Linked DNA regions of Homo sapiens: all the other regions are reported to be linked to region 2. Evidence: microRNA targets listed by miRTarBase, many of them from high-throughput screens and not tested one by one. Region 2 holds a microRNA gene; each other region holds the end of a gene's coding sequence.
Evidence for each region. Region 2 holds the annotated microRNA hsa-miR-548ap-3p (AAAAACCACAAUUACUUUU, at 1,418-1,436, opposite strand). A microRNA usually pairs through its seed, bases 2 to 8, with sites in the 3' UTR of a target mRNA and lowers its output. Matches are read on the target gene's strand: a 7mer-m8 pairs with bases 2 to 8, a 7mer-A1 pairs with bases 2 to 7 and ends in A, and an 8mer does both.

Region 1 (3,116 bases), not on the chromosome of region 2:
AGTTATACTAGTGGTGGTGAAAATGCCCCTGTAGCCTTTAAGAGACAACAGCCTTAAGTACTACATTAAAAATGCTACCACAGAGAAGGGGGGCAAGTTGGATAATTAAATAAGAAGTAACATGCCACACTTTCCTACAGCAAAATGTAAGAATCGTTTTCCCCTTCTTGGAAAAATAATATAGAAGAGGACCTTCCAAAATCTATAATTCTTTCAGGAAAATGAAAAGTTTCATCAACATGTTTAAGGGCTAAACAAGCCTATTGTTGTTTCTAATTTACCGAAATGTCATTTCATAAAGACAATACTCAAACATGGTCTTTGCTTAGATTTGACACACAAATCAAAATGGTTAGCACATCATCATCAGACCTATCAGAACTTAAAAGGGCAGATAGGCCTGAAAGTGGTCTTGTTTTTCTGAAGTTACTAGAAATGGAACTGATATGATAATGAACTAGAGTATCAGTTCTGAGTGCTTTAGGTTTCAGGTCTCAAGGATGAATTGTGAAAGGAACAGCAAATGGAAACAGAAGGTAGCTTTGAGGGAAAGTTTATTTTGTTCACTATTGTATCCCCAGATTCTAGTCTAGAATACTGAATAAATAAACTTAGAAAGTGAAACCCTGGGTTTGAATCCTGGTTTTGTCCTTTTCTAGCTGTAAGACTTTGGAGCATTTACCAAACACATCTTGAGGGGTTCTTGGACGATAAAAACTGCATGTGTTCCATAAAGCTCTGTATATAGGATGGTTATTATATTCAGCCTATATGAAAGAACTTCTGGACCCAATGTGGGGAGTCATCTGAAAGCTGCTATTTATGTGGTATCACCCCAAACTGAGCATTTTCACTGATGAACAACTGAGGCCAATTTGATATGGTTGTATCTGAGGATGTAAAAATGAAACAGGAAGCTGAAAAGATGTATGCATTTCAAAATCATTTTGTCCTACTTTATTGCAATGAGTGCAAACACACACAGTCATAAAATACACAAAGATAGTTGTTACCTTTCTTTGGTCAGATTCTTTGAGAATGTTATGAATGCTAGAGATCCTTGTCCCCTCAAAATGAGCACACACACACACAAACAAACTGGTCCATACACATACACACACCAACATACTTGTAGGTTTGCTTTTTAGGCAACAGAGCATTCCCTAACTCGTTCCAAAGTCTATGATTCAAGTTAAGAATTACTGAAATAAAGAATAAGTATTTGGATTTACATGGGAATAGATATGGAATACACACCATACACACACACACACACACACACACACACATAATATATCCAAATATTTAATGACTATTTAAATAAGTCTTATACAGTACACAATTTCCTACTCAATCTGATATATGCAATTGCCACTGACAAAATTCTAGGAAAAGGATCAACTTATGCTCTGCATAATGAAGTGACAGATGCTCCTACAGTGTTCTGCAAACCACTATTTACTTGAAGCAGTTTCACAACTTCTATGTGTTTACAGCAGGGTTGAATTTGATATGACAACTTGGCTCAATGAGTATTACAGCCAATTTCTAGTGGACCCTGTATCTTGGAAGGTAAGGTAACCAACCACAGAATTCACTCATCTCTTCATTTAATAGTATAAAATGGAGCAAAATTATTTCCACAATCACTGGTGACTTCCTCAGCCTGTCTGCCTGTCCCAAACAAAGGCAGAAATGACACGTCTTTGTAGTGGTTCCCCTGATCTTTGAAATTAGTGATATTTACCAAGAGCATATTTTATAGTTCAGCTAATAGCTCCATCAAGATTATGTACATAAAGGCATTTTTAAAATTACTAACAATAGACAATACACAGTTCACACTTCCTATGGAGAAAAACACTTTACAGCAACACTTGCTATAGTATAAGTTTACTAGCTTATAAATTTTGCTATTCTAATTGAGCTTTGAGGAAAAAAAAGGAACCAGGAAAAGAGATGTTCTAGGGCCTAAGGAAACTTCAAATTTTAGTATCTGAACTACGCTATGATATGATTTCTTTAAATTGCCCAGGGTAATGAAAAAAATAGAGATTCATATGCAAATATCTTTGCTCAGTAAAAACCATAAATTTCAATAAGTATAAGCACAGGACAACCAAGAGTTTATTTTTATACTTCAGCAACCTGACAATCCATTCCTCATAGCAGTTTTCAGCTGGGCAATTATTTTAATTTTTTATTGTCTTTATTTCTGAATTTAAGGGTAGAGGGCACACACAAATGGTCAAATTCTCATTCAGATTGCAAAGGTATTAGTGTATTTTTTGTCATAGTCTACACTTGCAGTTTGGTTTTCTATGTCATAACTGAAAAACAGATCATTTCTCTTTCCCCTTTTCCTATGATCCCTTGTTTCACATCTATTCCCTGACACATTAAATCTCTGCAGTTTTAAGATGAATTGTGGTATCTTTATTTTGCAGATCCTTTCTCAAATCTGGCATCATGTTGCCTTCACCTGCCTGATTCCTTCCTTCTGATGGCAATGTTAAGGCTCATGGTTGCGATACCATTGAATGTGGCTTATGTGGAAACTGCCTCGGCTTGGCTCAGGGGATCTCTGCAGGGCCACAGTGGAAGATAGAGCCTTCTAAACAAAGACGCTGAAGAGTGGGAATTCAGCCTGATTGGGCTGCAGCAGGTCAATCAGAAAGCACACTGTCCCAGAGAAGCCTTCATACAAGCTGTATATACTTTCAAGGACCCGAGAACCGGCCTTGAATTCCTCGGTAAATAAGAATTGAGCAAACCTAAGAGAAGAAGAAAATATGAACAGTTTAACATGAGTGTTTCCATATTATGGACCTTGGGTTGCTTCTTCCTCTTCTATTAAAGTTTTAGCATAATTTTCTTTCCAGAATTATATAATTAAGTATTTTAAGAAACACATTTTCTCTGTTAAAGAAGAAGATCCATTATATAACTGTGTATGTTTCACAACAAATTATGCTGGCAAGCAAATCCAACTATTCTTAGAGTTTGCAAAGCAAAGCAGTTTGGAATTTTCAAGGATCTCATTCTTTCTGTCATCCAGTAATTAAAGTAAAAAAAGACAGACAAATTGCTCTACTTTTATTTATCTTGAAAAGAAG
Region 2 (3,116 bases):
TCCAACCATTTAGGAAAGGTGATGCACTTGGGGCCTGAGGATATGATACTATCACATTTACGTGGTCATAAGGACCTTTGAAATTCAGATTAGGTCTGCTTATCAGCAGAGACTATTTCAGCACTAAATCTAATAAATATTCCAATCAGTGCAAAAGACCTCCTGTGTTCCATAGCTCATGTCACTAACTGCAGCAGCTTCTGTTGGGTACACCTTGGCATGATTCCAGCTGCCTTCCCAAGCCCATTTTAGCAGTTAGGTATCTATAAAAGGAGGTGGAAGATAAAGTGGGGAGGGGTGGGAAGGAGCAAGGAAAGATGAATTATGGGCGGAACATATAATAATAACTCGGCCACTTTATTTCTATTCCTTAAATGGAAAAACAAAATTTGATGCTTTTTGGTCTTCACATTTCTAAAAGCCATTATCAGATTTCATTTTTGAAATAAATTAACAGACAAAAAATATTTTGTTTTGTTCTGTGCCTCTGTTGTCTGAGTGCCCCTATAATAAGACATGCTTATCTGACAAACATCAGAGGAGCCATGCCCCTCTGAGAAACATCTTCACTGTTACTGAGATTTGGGTTTATTATAATGGGGTACTGGGCATTTTGCCCACTAACTATATAGTAAATATTTCTGTGATTAACCTGAGCCCCATACTAAATATACAAAAATTCAGTGGCTCCTTATTATTTGTGGATTCTACGTCCACAAATGTGGATTGCAATTGGAGATGCCTGATGGGCATGCACACGAGGATGTTCTGTTTCTTGTTTCTGCTCATAGAGTAAACAAGTGTCCGGGTGCGGTGGCTCACGCCTGTAATCCCAGCACTTTGGGAGGCCAAGAAGGGCGGATCAAGAGGTCAGGAGATTGAGACCATCCTGGCTAACACGGTGAAACCCCATCTCTACTAAAAATACAAAAAAAAAAAAAAATTAGCTGGGCGTGGTGGTGGACGCCTGTAGTCCCAGCTACTCGGGAGGCTGAGGCAGGAGAATGGCGTGAACCTGGGAGGCAGAGCTTGCTGTGAGCCAAGATGGCGCCACGCCTGGGCTACAGAGCGAGACTCCATCTCAAAAAAAAAAAAAAAAAAAAAAAAAAACGAGAGAGAAAACAAGTGTCCTATTTGCAGTTTGTTTGGTGCCACAGATTTTCTCATTTTTGTGCTTTTAGTTGGTAATTTTGCTGTTTAAAACAGCCTCCCGAGAATAATGTCAGTGTGCTACCTGGTATCCTAAGCACAAAGATGCTGTGCTGTGTCCTGTGCAGAAAATCCACGTGAGACAAGCTTTGTTTGGGTGCGAGTTACAGTGCTATTGGCCCTGAGTTCAATGTAAACCCATCAACGTTATAGGTAAAATAAAGTGTCTTTAAATAGATACATGCCTAAAACAAGGTTAGGTTGGTGCAAAAGTAATTGTGGTTTTTGTCATTAAAAAATTGCAAAAACCACGATCACTTTTGCACCACCCTAACATTTTTCTTCACTTCTCTTGACGCAAATTATAGATTCAATCACCCAGCACTTACAAGCAAGCATTTCTTTATCTTAGGTTGACCTTAAGAACTTCTTTGTATTTACTAACTTCCTTTAGGACTCCTCCTCTTTTGTAGTAAGACGGCAGGATGAAATACAATGAAGAGGGTACCATATTTTAAAGATAAGGCTGAATACCACACACCTGGCATGATGAGAGGCCTATACAGAAAAAAGAGCTTCTGAAGCTTCTCTATGCCACACAAGGGATGAAGGTGGCCTCCAACAACTGTGACCTCCAACCGGTGGAGCTCATGTGTGATATGCCTTTTATGTCCTTTAGCACATTTGTTACCCACAATAACTTTACAAGCCAAGTATTATTATCCACAATTGCTAGAAGAGGAAACCAAAGCTCCCTAAATGCTCAATATCATGCTCATCACTCTTTCAGCTCTGTATGGGATTCCCAAAGTGAACCTCATGTGTATTTATGAACTTGGCACTCTCGGATACCATGCAGCACCCCTCATTTTCTGTGAGCTCTGCTTGCTGAGGTGAAGACTCTGCTGCAAAGGGGCCCCTGGTCCTGTGAAGCTGGTCCCCCTGCTGTGCCTATTCTAAGGAATGGCCATTGCTGATGACATTTGCTGGTCTGTGCCCAGGCATGGTTTCCTGGCGCTGCAGAAGCCACTGGCTGGTAATCTGCCTATGGGTGTCCACAAACCCTCAAGTACAGAAATTTGCCATCCTTCAGTTTGACAGGCATTTTAATGGAATGCTCTTTCAGTGTATCTCCCTAGCATTCAGGTACGCGTTTCAGGGGCCAGGCTGGAGGGTGATCTAAGTGACAGGCATGGTACAATGGTAAATTTTGCCCATACCCTCAACACTGATCCTCTACTTCTAGGCCATACTAAGGTGGCTTTTAAAAATTAATATATGATAATAGTACCTATTTATGGGATACATGTGATATATGGATACATGCATATAATGGGTAATGATCAAAGCAGGGTATTTAGGATATGCACCACCTCAAACATTTATCATTTCTTTGTGTTGGGAACATCCCAAATATTCTTTTCTAGCCCTTTTGAAATACACAATACATTGTTGTTAACTATGGTCACCTGCTGTCCTATTGACCATTAGAACTTATTCCTTCCAGCTAACTGTATGTTTATAGCCATTAGCCAACCCCTCTTTATCCCACATCCCAGCCCTCCACACACACACACACACACACACACACACACACACACACACACACACACACACACACACCCTTCCCAGCCTCAGGTAGCCGTCATTATACTCTCTACCTCCATGAGATCAAATTTTTTAGCTTCCACGTGAGTGAGAACATGCAATACTTGTCTTTCGGTGCCTGGCTTATTTTTAACATAATGTCCCCCATGCTCATCCATGTTGCCGAAAATGGCAGGATTTTATTATTTTTATATCTGTTCTCTTATTAATAGTATAACTTCTTACAACTTAGATTTAAGCAGAGGCCCTTCTACATATAATTGGAATTTTATATGTCCACATTTAAAAAGAGTTACCTTGGGATTGATAACATACTTCTTTTGCTCCTAAGTAAAAATTTTTATTACTATAAAATGTTT
Region 3 (3,116 bases), not on the chromosome of region 2:
TCTAATTTTTTTTTTTTTTTTTAAGACAGAGTCTCCCTCTGTCGCCCAGGCTGGAGTGCAGTGGCGCAATCTCAGCTCACTGCAACCTCTGCCTTCCGGGTTCAAGCGATTCTCCCTGCCTCAACCTCCCGAGTAGCCAGGATTACAGGTGCCCACCACCATGCCCAGCTAATTTTTTTTTTTTTGAGACAGAGTTTCACTCTTGTTGCCCAGGCTGGAGTGCACTGATGCAATCTCGGCTCACCGCAACCTCTGCCTCCTGGGTTCAAGCAATTCTTCCGCCTCAGCCTCCTGAGTAGCTGGGATTACAGGCATGCGCCACCACACTGGCTAATTCTTGTATTTTTAGTAGAGACGGGGTTTCTCCATGTTGGTCAGGCTGGTCTCGAACTCCTGACCTCAGGTGATCCACCCACCTCGGCCTCCTGAAGTGCTGGGATTACAGGCATGAACCACTGTGCCCGGCCAAATTTTTGTATTTTTTAGTAGAGACAGGGTTTGACCATGTTTGAGACACAGTCTCACTGTGTTGCCCAGACTGGAGTGCAGTGGCACAATCATGGCTCACTGCAGCCTCGACAACCTGGGCTCAAGTGATTCTCCCCACTTAGCCTCTCAAGTAACTGGGACTACAGGTACACACTACCATGCCCAGCTAATTTTTGTATTTCTTGTACAGACAGGGTTTCACCATGTTGCCCAGGCTGATCTTGAACTCCTGGGGTCAAGTGATCTGCCTGCCTCAGCCTCCCAAAGTGCTGGAATTACAGGCGTGAGCCATCTTGCCTAGCTGATTTTTCTTTTTTTTTCTTTTTTTTTTTTTTTGATGGAGTCTTGCTCTGTCGCTCAGGCTGGAGTGCAGTTGCATGATCATAGTTCATTGCAGCCTCAACCTCCTGGGCTCAAGTGATCCTCCCACCTCAGCCTCCTGAGTAGCTGGAACCACAGACATACACCACCACACGTAGCTAATTTATTTTTATTTTTAATTTTTTTTGTAGAGACAGGGTGTCACTATGTTGACCAGGCTGGTCTTGAACTCCTGGCCTCAAGCGATCCTCCTGCCTCAGCCTCTCAAAGTGCTGGGATGACAGACATGAGCCACCAAACCCAGTGAGTTTGATTTTTTTTTTTTTTTGAGACAAGGTCTTGCTCTGTTGCCCAGGCTGAAGTGCAGTGGCATGATCATGGCTGACTGCTGCCTTGACCTCCTGGGCTCAGGCAATCCTCCTGCCTCAGCCTCCTGAATAGCTGGGACTACAGGTATGCACCACCACACCCAGCTAATTTTTAAATTATTTGTAGAGACAGGGGTTTCCCTAGGTTGCCCAGGCTGGTCTTGAACTCCTGGGCTCAAACAATCCTCCTGCCTCAGCCTCCAAAGGGCTGAGATTACAGGCACAGGCCACTATGTCCAGCTTGAGTTTGATTTTTTTTAAAGAGAAAATCAACAATCCCTTAATGAGCCTGATTTTAAGACTTAATGTGTCAAAATATGCAGTTCTTAAGACAAAGGGGGAATAGGTGTAAAAGAGGTCCTTGGTGTTCACAGCCTAAACCTGGACTCAGGGTTGGCTGCTATCAGGGTTGAGGGGTCCCTACCGCTGGACACCTTAGATGGCCTGAGAACCAAGCCCACATCAGTGCTATGGTCTAGCCATTCTCCCTCAAAGGGACCCAGCCTCCCTCCAGCCAGCCTGAGGCCCACTGGCATGCAGGGACCTCTGAGAACGACTGACTCCCAGGGATTCCTTGGCTCCTTACCTTCCAGCATTCTCCTGCAACCAAGCCCAGGGCACATGGGACTGTCCCTGAGCCAAGGACCCAGGCATGCTGTGAGCCAGGGGAAGGGGAGTAAAGAGACTGGTGGCTTTTACCCTCCATCTGAGGGTGGAGGGGCTGGGAAGGGACAGGAGGTCTGTGGGAGGTCACTCCAGAGGCTGGGAAGGGACAGGAGGGATTCTGTTGTTCTCAAGTGACCTATTTGACTTCCCCCTCCTGAGGAGTCAGCACACAGGCTGAAAGATGCAGTGAGACACAAGTTTATTGGTGGAGCTGCAGCGGAGTCCTCCCTCTTTCAGGGATAGCCAAGGGCACAGCACCAACAGAGGGATGGAGAGATAGACCCCCAAACAGACACATGGATGGAGCAGACTCATAGAAACCATAGCACAGCCACATAGGCACAGAGACACACAGGCCACAGCACCAAGAACACACACACACACACACACACACACACACACACACACACAGACAAAACCACAGGGCTAAGACACACGGACAAAGTGCGGGCTTTGGGGCCCCTGCATAGACAGAGCGAGGGCCATGTGGGGAGGGGGCCCCTACTGACCTCCCCCAGGCATAGGCACACCAACAGCACATAGACAGGCAGATGCCCCCAGCCAGCCAGCCTGCCACACAGACAAATGGACTGCAGGGAAAGGATGTTCGTGGCTCCACATGAACCATGGGGAGATGGCACCACAGGCCTTCAACACACCCTGCCACACTGAGGCCTGGGAGTCCCCGCCCCTGAACTAGTCACATCTATTCCCCTGACTCCCACCCCACTCCCCGCCACACTTTGGTCTTGCCCACTGGGGCTGGGGCTGGGGCTGAGGCTGGGGAAACTGGCAGGTGGTAGGAGGGAGAGAGGAAGGGGTATGGACCTGGCTCGGTCCCGTCTCTGTGATCAGGGCAGCAGATGCTGAGAGTCTGGGGCTGAGCCTCGGCCTGGCAGTGGGGTGAGGGCAGGGCCATGGCTCAGGCTTGGGGGGGTTCCTGGCAGCGCAGGCACTGGGCCATCTCCGGCTGATACTGCTCGACCTGCAGGGTGCAGCTGGAGAATCCAAACCGGGAGTAGAGCCGGGATGAGGCTTCAGCCAGGACGGCTTCAGGGTCAGCGGTGGAGTCTGTGGGAGAGTGATAAGAGGCGGCATCCATCCCGGGGGAGAAAGAACAGGCAGGGACTGAGATAAGGACAGGGAAAGGGGCTGCACAGCATTAAAGCCAGGCGTGAATGGAAGCCTGCTTTTCTTTCTGTATTGTATGAACAGCATAAAAGTGTCAAATCAAATGTTGGAGAGACTCACCCCAATCAACCATGCTAACAC
Region 4 (3,000 bases), not on the chromosome of region 2:
TTATTTATTTAGAGACGGAGTCTCGCTCTTGTTGCCCAGGCTGGAGTGCAATAGTGTGAACTCGGCTCACTGCAACCTCCACCTTCCCGGGTTCAAGTGATTCTCCTGCCTCAGCCTTGTGAGTAGCTGGGATTACAGGTGCCCACCACCACGCCTGGCTAATTTTTTTGTATTTTTAGTAGAGACAGGATTTCACTATGTTGGCTCGGCTGGTCTCAAACTCCTGACCTTGTGATCCACCTGCCTCGGCCTCCCAAAGTTCTGGGATTACAGGCATGAGCCACTGCGTCCGCCCTATTTTTGGTTTTTATTACACATAGCTGAATTTAATTTTTATGTGGTTCCTAATGACTGAAACCAAGAAATACTCTCAAATAAATCCTAGGAAGGAATTCTGGGTGGAGAAACCATTCCAACCTGTCCTTTGTAGATGAAATGTAATCAGCTACCTTTCTTGAGATATTTCACAGTAAGGTTACCAAGAAAAAAAAAACAACAGCTGACAACCGAAAAAAGACTTAAAGACAATCCTACATGGCGGCCATCTTAGTTCTTTCTACTCTGGTGGAAACACACTGAACAGGCAAGCCAGGAGGACACCGGGTCTCTGGTTCTGACTCTGATGCTGTCTTCCTTGGCCTTGGCTTGGATTTTCCTCTGCGAATGAGGGGGTTAAACTAGATATCTCCAAGTTTTCATCCAGCACTGAAATTCTAGTCTGTTTTCTACCCTCTATCAGATAACATACTTCTTTTAGATGAATGAAATAATCCATGTAAAGTGCTTCTCAAAGTGGTTGGCAAGTTAACTCTTTTTAGTAGTTTCATTTACCAAGTTACTCATTTTTGTAGTTTCCACAGTACCTTTCATAGATGGATGTCGGGTAAGTGTTTGCTGGTTGATCCTCTGCTGATGCCCTGCTCACCTCACAGAAGGCCTGACCACACACCTACTAGTATCAGCAAGAAAAACTCAAAAAGAGGAGACTCTTTAGGTTCCATGGACACATACAGGAGAAAAACCAGCAGATGGAGGAGGAAATACACCATTTATTTACAATTCTTTTCACTTTATCCACAATTTCCCATACAAACATAAAAACTAAAAAAATAAAACCACCACTTGGGAACACAAGTGTCTTTCTTTAATTAGTCCGGTTGAGGGAGGGTCTCAAGCCCTCTCACTCTATGAAGGAGACCACTGAGGCACACCGAAGGGGAAAAGGAAGAGGGTTGGGAAGAATGCCTGAGAAACAGCTCCAGATGAGAAACCTAACTCACACCGATGTGGTGGGGCCTCACTGGCAAAGAGACTTGAGGGTGTTACCCACCAGGGACACTGCTCGGCTTCCCAGGAGGATGACAGCTGCTGGCCCCCATCCCCCCACCCTCCACTACCAAATACCAAAACTCAAACAGGGGTCACACATCTCATGAGCTGTGTGGGGAGTGAAGGTGACAGTAAGGGATATGGAGTGCTGCTCTCTGAGAAGAGCCCCAAACCCGAGGGACACACAAGAAGCCCCTTTCCTTGGCACTGAGTCTTCAGTCACAGCTTCTGTCCGAATACAATGCTGAACTTGAAAACGTAAAAACAAAAGCCCTCCCCAGATTCCGGGGAAGGTGGGGATAAAAACACATAGAGAGGGCTTGCCCGCCTCTGCAGTCCCTTCCTGGGGAGGCTGCTAGGAGCAAAGGGCAGATGCTCCAGGAAAGTCTGGGGGTTGGGGGGCGGGGTGAAGAAAGGGGCGAGGAGGACTCTGAGACACTGATGCTTGGGATGGCTCCAGCTGCTCAGCTACTCACTTCAGCAGCCTCCCGTTCTACCCCTCACAGCAGGACACCCAGAACCAACCTGGAGGTGCTGAAGCCACCTTCCTGGCAACTTCCTCTGTGCTAGTGACCTAGATTGCTTTCACATGTTGATGCACATTATAAATATAAAATCATATCTGCTACAAAGAGGACATATATTTGTACATCTTTACCCATATACATAATAACACAATTTACACATAATATCTTGGAGTGGGTCATCATGGAAAAGGGGTCTGGAGAGCCCCTTCTGCCTCCCCTGCCCCAATCCCTCTTCAAGGGATGCTTATACACTTGGTCACTGGGGCCCTTCCCAACTAGTTTGATGGGGCTCGTCTGGACACAGAAATTCAGACATGTGACTAAATGCTGATGGGCATGTATACACATTCACACCCACACACACATGCAGACACCTGGTGAGAAAAGGAAAAATAAAATTCCTAGCCCTTGGGTGTAGGCCTCTTTCCAGAGTTACAAGCATCAGTGCCTCCTCCATCTAGAATAATGGTTTTAAAAAGCTACCCCTCACTGGCTCAGACTGGGGCAGAAGGGGAACGGCTAGGAAACCAGGAAGAGGGAAGAGGGGCCAGGAGTCTTTCGAAAATATAAGGCGTTTTTGACCTGTGATCAAATCAAACTATGTTCACAAAAAAAAAAAAGCAACGGTTATCAGTTGGGGCCTGTCCTTGTAGGGACAATGTGAGGTGAGACCCTGAGCCTTCCCCTTCTTTGTCCAGTTTCTTTTAAAGGGGCAGACAACCCTGTACCACCTTTTCTGTCCTCTCCCAGAACTGGGCCCATCCACGCGGCATGGAATACTGACAGTGGTCCAAGTGACACATCCAGAGACATGGAGTGGTGGATGCCAGAAAGTTAAGACCTGGGCGGTGGGTGTGAGCTTTGTACAACAGGAGTGGTTCCTGGCCGGGGTCCACGGCTCGCACAGTGGCCACAGTGATCAGACTGCCATCAGAGATGAAGGCAGTCTGGGTCCCCGGAGGAGACAGCACCTATCGGCGGTAGTGATTTGGGGCATCGGCAAACATGTACTTGAGTCTGTATGCCTCGGCGAGAAGCAGCCCAATTTCTTCGTTGCCCCAGTGTATTGTAGGTAGGTTCTGTAGCAGCATGAGGAGACCCTGGAATGCAAGAAAGGACTTTTATATCATACCAGACCGTAGAC
Region 5 (3,000 bases), not on the chromosome of region 2:
TTATATTTTCTTCTAAAGATTGTTTACAGAGCTGGAAATAGAAAAAATATCTCAAACTGCTGTGTGTTTGATAATTATAATTAGGTTATAATTCAATAAAGCTTAGATATTCTAAAAACTGTGTCATAGTTTTTAGTCTTCTGGAGGGGCCTCAAGTTCTATATTTGTTTGGAGAAAAGACTTGTATGATTAATTTACAATAACCCGTTGACAATTTTACTAAATATGTGTGTGCTTCTTTAATGTAGGAGCTGAAGTTGCTTTGGTTGGTGGCTTGAAACTTCTAGCTAGACTGTCACTTCTTACAGAACAAGACTTATGGACTGTTAATGGACTTCCAAACGAAAATAACTCTTCAGATCATCTGCCTTTATTGGCAAAGTTCAGACTTGAGCTCTGACTCTCTTTGATCACATACTAATTTTCTTTCCAATTTGTATTGTTTTTCAAAGAATGTAAAGTTCTTAAGTGTATGCATGTTGTTTATTTTTGCACTGTGGAGATTCTGAAGCGGTTATGTTAGATGCTTTGAAACTCCATATCAGAAGAAATAACTTTATAACAATTTTTTTTAATAATGAAAAATATTTTCGTGACAAGTGAGCTCTAAATTCTCTTTATTGTAAAAGAGATGTAAAGGTTTTATATTCTAAATCCTAGTAAAATTGACAGTGATTTTTAAATATAATGCATCTTCCTTTGTCTGCTTAGTAAAAAATTTCATTTCATAATTTTGGCAAGCTCTGTAGTGGATCCAAAGTATCTTTGAGTTCTTGCAAACTACAAGTTGTTTCCTTTCCAGAAGGCTTGATTTCATTAGGAGACCCCTCTATTGAGTTCTAAATAGTTTATCTTAGAAAGCCTTGGGTCATTCACAGGTATCCAACCAGCCATTGTTTAGTTTGTTTTTGAAGGGGTTTGATAATGCTTTTTAAGTTGTACAGAATGCTTAATCCATCTTATTACTGTCCTGAGCCATGTAATATGCCTGCATCGTGTTGGGGAAATGTTTGGGAAATATAAGCCAGCATAACGTGTAAAGCTCACTCTTTCACCCTGGAACAGACAAGAGGTGGGCTTAATAGAGGCAGAGACTGGGGATATACCTTTGTTTCCCTAGCATTTTTATTTATTTATTTTTATTTTATTTTATTTTTTGAGATGGAGTTTCACTCTTGTTGCCCAGGCTGGGGGTGCAATGGCGCAATCTTTGCTCACTGCAACCCCTGCCTCCCGGGCTCAAGCGATTCTCCTGCCTCAGCCTCTCGAGTAGCTGGGATTACAGGCATGCGTCACCACTCCCAGCTAATTTTGTATTTTCAGTAGAGACAGGGTTTCCCCATGTTGGTTAGGCTGGTCTCGAACTCCCAACCTCAGGTGATCCGCCCACCTCAGCTCTCAAAGTGCTGGGATTACAGGCGGGAGCCACTGCACATGGCAGCATTTTTTAAAAATTCAGTTTTAAGATCTCTGGTTTAGGGGAGAGATTTTATTTTACTGAACCAGTTCTATAGAAATTTATTTTATTAGGAAATTTGTCTTTGGAACAAAGTGGCAGCTATAAAATTATTTTTGTTAAGCCTCAGAAATATGAGGAAGCCTGTAAAACTCTAGTGGGGAGATATTAACTTGGAGACCTAATGCTCTGTAAATAGTCATTTAAACTGTTGGTTTTAGTGGTTTTGTTTCTAAAATGTTTTCTTTTACCGTGATGCACCAGTATGAGATGGTGCTGACACTTTCTATGAAGTGGTTATGAGCAGGTTTAATAAATCCTCTATACAAGTGTTTGAATCAATTTTAAAACATAAAAAGTGGAAATTTCCTTTTTTGTAGACAGTAGGAACAAGGAATTATATGCATTTTTACTAAGTAGTAATTTTACACTGAATTGTAAATGTTTTTACAGTGAGTTTTATTAATAGAATGCTTCACCTTAAATTGGAAAACAATAATAGTCTTGGACTAAGTCTTTGTACTAAAGCATTTGCTATAATTATTTTTAAAAAAACAAACAGATGAAAACCTCAGAGAAGGCATGTGGATTATAAGATTTGTCTAGTAAAAATTGTAATTGAATATGTTTAAATATTTAATTTCTCATTTTGGGGGGTTTTTATTTTTTTATTTTTTAGATGGTGTCTCACGCTATCGCCCAGGCTGGAGTGCAGTGGCGCGAACTCGGCTCACTGCAACCTCCGCCTCCTGGGTTCAAGCAATTCTCCTTCCTCAGCCTCCCAAGTAGCTGGGATTACAGGCATGCACCACCATGCCCAGCTAATTTTTGTATTTTTAGTAGAGATGGAATTTTGCCATGTTGGCCAGGCTGGTCTTGAACTCCTGACCTCAGGGGTGATCCACCCGCCTCGGGCTCCCAAAGTGCTGTGATTACAGGCATGAGCCACCATGCCTGGCCTTTGGGGGGATTTTAATTACAGTATTAATTATAGTTCTAGGATTTCCCACATTTTATAGTAGTAGTTTGCAGGATATTATGTGCCCTAATTAGCAGATATAGACATTATCAAATTATAATGATAGTATAATTATCCCTTTTTAATATTGGGGAAAGAAAAATGAAAATTCATTAGTTAATTACTGCTTTGTGTTGTGTGAATTTATTAACAAATAACATTATTACATATAGGTCATTGTTAACAAACAAACATCCCTGAAAACCTCTGTGAAAATTTAATTTTTTATATCCTGATTAATATATTGTGACTTTAGGCCCATTTTTCATGTGCTTCACTTTGATAGAGTTAATCCATAAAATTGCTCTTTACTTTAGCTTATCAAATGAAGTATTATTTTGTGGACTGGAGGCCAAAAAGTCAATGTGAGCTTCTCACAGGTTTTTAAAGCTCCACTAAAAATAATTATCCACTTGTCTTTACTTTTGTTGACCAGAATAGTTGGTAACTCTGCCAGAGCCTGTACTTACCTGCCAAAAACAATTAAATCTGGTTAATGCCTGAAACCAAATCTCTCAGTCTCAAG
Region 6 (3,116 bases), not on the chromosome of region 2:
CCACACCCGGCCAGCGAGTGTCGCCCAGGCACCTGCTTCTGTCGGGCGGACCCACCCTTCCAGGCGGTTCCGGCGCGCTGTGCCTCCGCAGGCTGCTCACTAAGAGCGCGGCGGCCTGGAACCCAGTAGCGCGCGGGTGTGGTGAGCGCTACGCTTCTCGGCGTCTGCCAGGACAGGGTCGGGGATCTAGAGATGCCGCCCAGGAGGTGTTGGGCGCCAGGGGAAAGAGAAGAGCCTGGCACGGAAGAGACAAGGTCTTCTCTGTTGCAGCTGCAGCAGCTAGGTAGCCTCTGTTCCCTCACACTTAGCACATCAGGACCGCGCCCATGCTCGAGTCGCCCCGGGAATCTCAGCTCTGCAAGACCTGAGGAAGTTCCCCTCTCCTGGTAGTGGGAGCCGCTGTCCCAAGAGCTGGCTGTCCCTGGGGTTGTCCTCTTGTGGCCCAGCCTTTCCTAGCCTGACTTGGCAATCGGCCTACGGCTGCAGCTAAACTCTGAACTCACTCCCTTCTTCCCTCCAACCAGAGCCCACCGAAGTTAACCAGCTGACGAATGCCCAGGGATGCCCTGCCCAAAAGCTCTCGGCTCCCGAAGGAACCCAGGTTTAAGAACAGAACGGGAGGCTGCAGACCAGTGTTCGGAAATACCAGCTGTCTCTGGTATCTCGCCTCGCGCGCTGTCGCTTTGCTCAATTTCGCAAACTAGATAAGCCTAAGTCCACTCCCCTTCCGCCCAGCATTCTTCCCTGCTCGCTGGGCGTTTCAGGCCGCGGAAAGTACAGGGGAGAGAGTGCCTCTGGTCGCGAACAAAGCCGCCTCTGTCTCCACCGCCTCCCGGAATACAGGGTTGTGCGTCCAGGTTGTACTTAGAGAGCGCAGAGGCAGTCAGCGAGCAAGACAGAAAAGAGTTTTGGAGACATTTGCTCTAGGGAAAATCGTCCAAACTTACACACTCTGGCAACACGTAAAGCTTTTCTTTTCTTTTTAATTAATTCAATGTCACGACAACATTAGTGTAACAATATTTTGTGGGTTTTTTTTTTCTCTTTTTCTTAAAAAGGGACTCAACCCAGGCAGAGGTGAGGGAGATGAGGGGAAACAAACTATCACAGAACAACAGGTGTACCGACAGAAAGAAAACAGATTGGGTGACAGAGCCAGGAGCCCTGCGGAGTAGAGGGTGAACTTTACAAGAAATCTGTACATTTATCAAATAAGTTAAAATTCTGCTAAATTGATTGTCCTTCACTTAAAGCGCTCCAGTATGCCTAACTTACTCCTTTGAGCATCACTACCTAAGCTTGTTTCTTTCTTCCCCCCTTTCCCCTGCCTACTTTTTTCTTTCTAAATGAATGACCATGATTATACAGTGAAAAGGTCTGTTTCCCACGGTGGAGGAGGAAACAGCTTTCTCAGGAGATTTTGTACAATATTGCACAGGTCAACGTACAATAATTACTGCAGAACATGAAAAGTAAGAGGAGAGGATAAAAGATATCATATTAAAAATACTGAAATTACTCTCTCAAAACAGGGAACAAAGTAATAATAGTAATATTAATAATAATTTACAAATGAAATTCTCAAAATAAATGCTACTAATAAATAAGACCACTTAGACCAGGCCAGATATGGAGCTGTTTCAAATAGTCAGAGTTCTGATTTTTGGCTGTCTTTTCTCTTTAGACACTTAGAGAATTCTTCCATCACAAAGTAAGACCGATGAAGAGGCTAATTGCAACAGACCTCTCCAGAAGAGAAAAGCGGCCTGAGTCGGGATTCTTATGAGAGGCTGCTCATATTTTGAAAATTAAGGTGGATAACTGATTTGGGGGTTGGGAGGAAGAAACATACCCAGAAATCCAGAAATAAAAGTACTATCATATGAATTCTCTCCCTCTCTGGATTCTGAAAACAGTTCTATAGAAAAGGAATAAACTAGGCCGGGCGCAGTGGCTCACGCCTGTAATCCCAGCACTTTGGGAGGCCGAGGCGGGCGGATCACGAGGTCAGGAGCTCAAGACCAGCCTGGCCAACATGGTGAAACCGCGTCTCTACTAAAAATACAAAAATTAGCCGGACGTGGTGGCACACACCTGCAATCCCAGCTACTCGGGAGGCTGAGACAGGAGAATCACTTGAACCCGGGAGGCGGAGGTCGAAGTGAGCCGAGATCGCGCCACTGCACTCCAGCCTGGGCAATAGATAGAGCAAGATTCCGTCTCGGAAAAAAAAAAAAAAGCAGAAAAGAATAAACTAGAGGGATTTAGGTTTTGCGCTTATTTTCCTTCTATAAAAATAAAACCAAAAAGCCACCGCGCAATGGAAATTTGGAAGGGAGGGCTGCACATTTTACAAAAACTATCGGCCGAAATCTCTGACCCGAAAATTTTGTCTTGTTCCTGCTTTCTCTTAATATAAGCCAAAAACCAAAAGTAAGAGGGGAAGCGCCTCCAATCCATTAGGGATGAATTGCACGAAAATGCATTGCAAATACTTACAAAATGCTACCGACTGGGGGAGGGGAAGCAGAGGCTGCGCGCCCAAGCCCCAGTTCCTGAAGGCCGCTGGACTTCTCGGCGCCCTCGGCCCGGCCCAGTCTCCTCCGGGGTCCGGACAAGGAGGCCGGGCGCTCCCTCCCCCACCCCTCTGGGGCCTCAGACCGGCCGTAGCAGCGGCACGGAAGAGACCACCGGGTGCGAGTAGTAGACGGGGTGCGGGAAGGTGAGCAGCGGCTGGCTGACTGGCACCGGGGCCCCCGCGGCTGCAGCCGCCGCGCCCTCGGCCGCCGAGTTCTCGTGGTAGAGGATGGGCACCCGCACGATGCGCTGCGCCGCGGCATGGCTCAGGTTGGCCGCCTCCAGCTCCGCCGCCAGCTGCCGCTTCCACTTGTTGCGGCGGTTCTGGAACCAGATCTTGACCTGCGTCTCGGTGAGGTGCAGGGACGCGGCCAGGCCGGCTCGCTCCGAGCTGCTCAGATAGCGCTTCATGTCGAAGGTGGACTCGAGCTGGAAGACCTGGCTGCGCGAGAAGACTGTGCGCGTCTTCTTCTTGCGGCACGCCGGCTTCTTCTCTGGACTTTCAGCGCCCTTCTTCCAGTCTTCTGCGCCCGGAGTGG
Region 7 (3,116 bases), not on the chromosome of region 2:
GGAATCCTAGTCAATGGTGTAAGAGGGCTAAGAGCTATTAGTTTTATCTTAAGGCATATATTCCTTATGTAGGGGCAACAATGTAAACATTGCAGACCTTGAGCATTCTCTAACATGTAGTTAGATTTCCATAAGGAAATGTGCAAGCTAGATCCCTCTCAAGCGCACTTCACAATAGGATTCCTGCTATGAAAATCTGCTGTTGCTGATCTGACAGGCGGCGGAGCTCAGGCAATCCATGGCCAGGAGATCGGAAACCCCTGCTCCCAGGTCTACAAATCTTTTGACACAGCCTTATTTCCACTTGCTGGGACCCTGTTGATTTCCTGAGAAGTTTCACAAAAGCCTAGTATAAAACTATTTAACTTAGCAATCTTCCAAATGAACTTTACATTTGGTTTTAGTAGTCTCAGCCCTACAGCTATAAGAAATGGATTGTTTGTATTGGCATATAAAAGCCTCCAAGTCCCTTTGCCTTGAGGCAGTAACTTTAAGACTCAAATTTATCCTTTCCCATGGCTTTTGTCTGATTCAGCTGCCCATGGCAGCAGTTACCTAGGGGTTACCTACGGGTAACTGCTGCCTCCCTTTCATGAAACTGGCGACTAGCATTACAGCACATCAAAAGACTACCACTTTGTCTCACTACTTCTCAGTCTATCTCAACTTGGTAAAATTCCAAATTTTCCTCAGTCTTTTGCCTGTTAACACTCTTTGTAGCCATGTCAAATGGCTAAAATTCTTTCAAATCTAAAAGCCAGAAAACAACTCAAACTAGCCTAAAAAAGGAAACTTTCAATCAGCAGGATAAAGGATGGCTACACAACTAAAGGGCTAAAACTCAGGCTTTAGGATAGAAACCGAGGGTTATGTTCGAGATTATCAGGAGTGTGAACTCGCAAGCCATCAGTTAACTGATGGGGAGAGGTTTGGTTGGGGAGAAAATGGTGGAGAATGTAGTTACTTCAGGAAAGGATGCCTGTATATACTACCACGATAAAACCAGGTTTCTCAGCCTTTAATGTATCCATCCATAACACAACCCCCTCTGGGACCACACCCTAAAACTCAACTTTATATATAAATACTACAAATTCTTGTTTCAAAACTCATTGAGAACAATTTGAAATAACCCATCAGGCATATACTAAGTTGTTTCCACATGCTTATCAGAAACAAACCTAAGGGTAGTTCTCTAAGCATATTAATTTACCACAAGTTGGCAAACACTGAAAACACCCTGGACAGTAAGTTTTACAAATTAAGACCTGCCAATACTGCCTATGCTCCATTACTGGTATTTTCCATCACCCAGGTACCCAGATTTGAGACATCATGATCAAGAGAACTGTGGACTAAGATCACCTAGGTTCAATTCAGATCGTGGCATTGCCACTTAAACAGCTATTTGAACTAAGGTAAGTTACTCTACATCATTTCATTGCTAAAGATTATATGTAAAGTTCTTCCCAAAGTACCTGAAACATACTAATACCTAGATGCGATAAAGGTTAGCAAGGCAACAAAATAACCCACCTGTAGCAACATCCCTACAATTGGTCATGAAAATTACTTAAATGCAAAATAATAAGAACATGTATTAAAGTACCCGCAGTCTAGTTATTTACTGTAACTCCATCCCCAAATGGAGATCACTCTAATACCTAGTTATGCACTCTGAATTTTCCAGGAATACAGAAATTCATCCCCCCCTCAACCCAGCCCAAAATAGCAAAGATACACCTCAGCCCAAGGAACACACTGCCCTAACGATTAAACTACAGAAGAACTCTAATTATAATAGAACAAGAACACTTCTTTGTGAACAGCTGCACCAACATTTTTCTTTTCATTTGCGTTTATTTAAACACAGTTCTCAAAACATTTGAGTGAAATTGGGCCTCCTTTGGTAAGCAAAGGACCTGAAAATAATATTTAAAAAATGAACAGGCAAAGTCTTCAGTTCATCCATGACAGGTATAGTGTTCCCTTATCATGTACTTTGAAGCACCCGGTTTTTTCATATAGTCTAAAAGCTAGAAGAACAAGAGTGTATTTGTGGTGGAATGTATTGTCACTTGCTGATAACTAGTTGAAATACCATTATCCCCTTGTAACACCTTTAAGAAACAGCCTTTTAAGGCATACACTGTGTAACTCTTCGTATTTCCTGCTATACATATTACAGATTACATAAAAGCCGACAAATCCACATTGATATAAGCATTAAGCACTGGCTGTATTTTAAGATTTTTAGTTCTAATACTAGCAGTACAGAGTTACAGAGCATAATTTTAAACACTTAGTTGCAGGTATATAAGTATGGTATGTTTCATGGACTGGAGGAAAACGGGCATTTGTCTTTAAATTTACTACTGACAATCTGAATAGTTCTGCTAAGCATTGATATGTTAGAAAGAAAAGTAAAAATCAAACTGTTTATTGTTGCTTTTTGCCATTTGGTAGCATTTTACACAGGCTTCGATCTTCAGAATACCCTGGATTCAGTAGAAAAACCTTTTAAATGAAGTTTTGTACAATAGAAACTTCTCAGCAGTCAAAATTTAGACTGTAAAAAAATACATGCAAAACATACTTTTCTGAAAACACTTAACTTGGAACAAAGCACCAAACTACACAAATGCAGAATGAAAACAGCATTTCAACTCCACCAAAAGTAGTCATCGTAAAAGGTGTAAAAGTCACCTAACTTCACTAGGCACTGTTCACTTTTTAAACAAGAGACAATAAAAAATATTGCCCACAAACAATATCCCAGCTCTAGGGCAGGTTTCAGAAAGTCTTCATGCTTTAATAGCGACCTGGGAAGAAAAGAATGAACATGCTTTAATATTAAGTGAACTAATTATCAAGTATACTTTAATGCCGAGAATTTCAGAATATTCTGCCATTAAGAAATTCCTATGTGCCAGAACCCCACCACCCCCAAATAGAGAAAGACTTCCATGTAAGTATTACACCAGAAATGAGATAGCAATCTTAAATAACAGAAATTGCTGGGAAGTATATAACTCAATCTGAGAACTAAAGGGCTAAGTAATCCATGTTTCTGTGCTGTCCAAAAATTTTTAAGGACTCTTGAAAAGCTACTAAAT

Region 1: the mRNA of LANCL3 is a reported target of hsa-miR-548ap-3p. Seed matches in the 3' UTR shown: 7mer-m8 at 2,083-2,089.
Region 3: the mRNA of SLC30A3 is a reported target of hsa-miR-548ap-3p. Seed matches in the 3' UTR shown: 7mer-m8 at 2,259-2,265.
Region 4: the mRNA of TBC1D22B is a reported target of hsa-miR-548ap-3p. Seed matches in the 3' UTR shown: 8mer at 1,111-1,118.
Region 5: the mRNA of ANGEL2 is a reported target of hsa-miR-548ap-3p. Seed matches in the 3' UTR shown: 7mer-A1 at 639-645, 8mer at 1,669-1,676 and 7mer-m8 at 1,678-1,684.
Region 6: miRTarBase lists HMX3 as a target of hsa-miR-548ap-3p. Seed matches in the 3' UTR shown: 7mer-m8 at 2,424-2,430 and 8mer at 2,298-2,305.
Region 7: the mRNA of TRA2B is a reported target of hsa-miR-548ap-3p. Seed matches in the 3' UTR shown: 8mer at 998-1,005.

What each region holds. Positions count from the first base shown.
Region 1 is chrX:37,675,312-37,678,427 of GRCh38, reverse strand. LANCL3 (LanC like family member 3) reads right to left here. Exons shown (of 5, transcript NM_001170331.2): 5 at 1-2,774. The coding sequence ends at 2,615. Among named protein-coding and RNA genes, the nearest start is that of XK, 8.9 kb to the left of the region's middle.
Region 2 is chr4:173,266,525-173,269,640 of GRCh38, reverse strand. It overlaps MIR548T (microRNA 548t), which reads right to left and starts at 1,481; the gene lies at 1,408-1,481. All of the region lies in intron 2 of GALNT7 (polypeptide N-acetylgalactosaminyltransferase 7), which reads right to left. LOC124900812 (a long non-coding RNA gene) reads left to right here. Exons shown (of 3, transcript XR_007058367.1): 2 at 1-3,116.
Region 3 is chr2:27,252,546-27,255,661 of GRCh38, forward strand. It overlaps SLC30A3 (solute carrier family 30 member 3), which reads right to left. Exons shown (of 8, transcript NM_003459.5): 8 at 1,139-2,915. The coding sequence ends at 2,767. Among named protein-coding and RNA genes, the nearest start is that of SLC30A3, 8.9 kb to the right of the region's middle.
Region 4 is chr6:37,331,000-37,333,999 of GRCh38, reverse strand. It overlaps TBC1D22B (TBC1 domain family member 22B), which reads right to left. Exons shown (of 13, transcript NM_017772.4): 13 at 1,030-2,956. The coding sequence ends at 2,828. LOC105375040 (a long non-coding RNA gene) reads left to right here. Exons shown (of 4, transcript XR_007059566.1): 4 at 852-930. Among named protein-coding and RNA genes, the nearest start is that of RNF8, 21 kb to the left of the region's middle.
Region 5 is chr1:212,992,441-212,995,440 of GRCh38, reverse strand. It overlaps ANGEL2 (angel homolog 2), which reads left to right. Exons shown (of 9, transcript NM_144567.5): 9 at 249-3,000. The coding sequence ends at 400. Among named protein-coding and RNA genes, the nearest start is that of ANGEL2, 22 kb to the left of the region's middle.
Region 6 is chr10:123,137,271-123,140,386 of GRCh38, reverse strand. HMX3 (H6 family homeobox 3) reads right to left here. Exons shown (of 2, transcript NM_001105574.2): 2 at 964-3,116. The coding sequence ends at 2,656. Among named protein-coding and RNA genes, the nearest start is that of HMX3, 2.9 kb to the right of the region's middle. RefSeq lists a silencer at 811-860 and enhancers at 295-1,064, 2,105-3,069.
Region 7 is chr3:185,914,904-185,918,019 of GRCh38, forward strand. TRA2B (transformer 2 beta homolog) reads right to left here. Exons shown (of 9, transcript NM_004593.3): 9 at 1-2,822. The coding sequence ends at 2,812. Among named protein-coding and RNA genes, the nearest start is that of TRA2B, 22 kb to the right of the region's middle.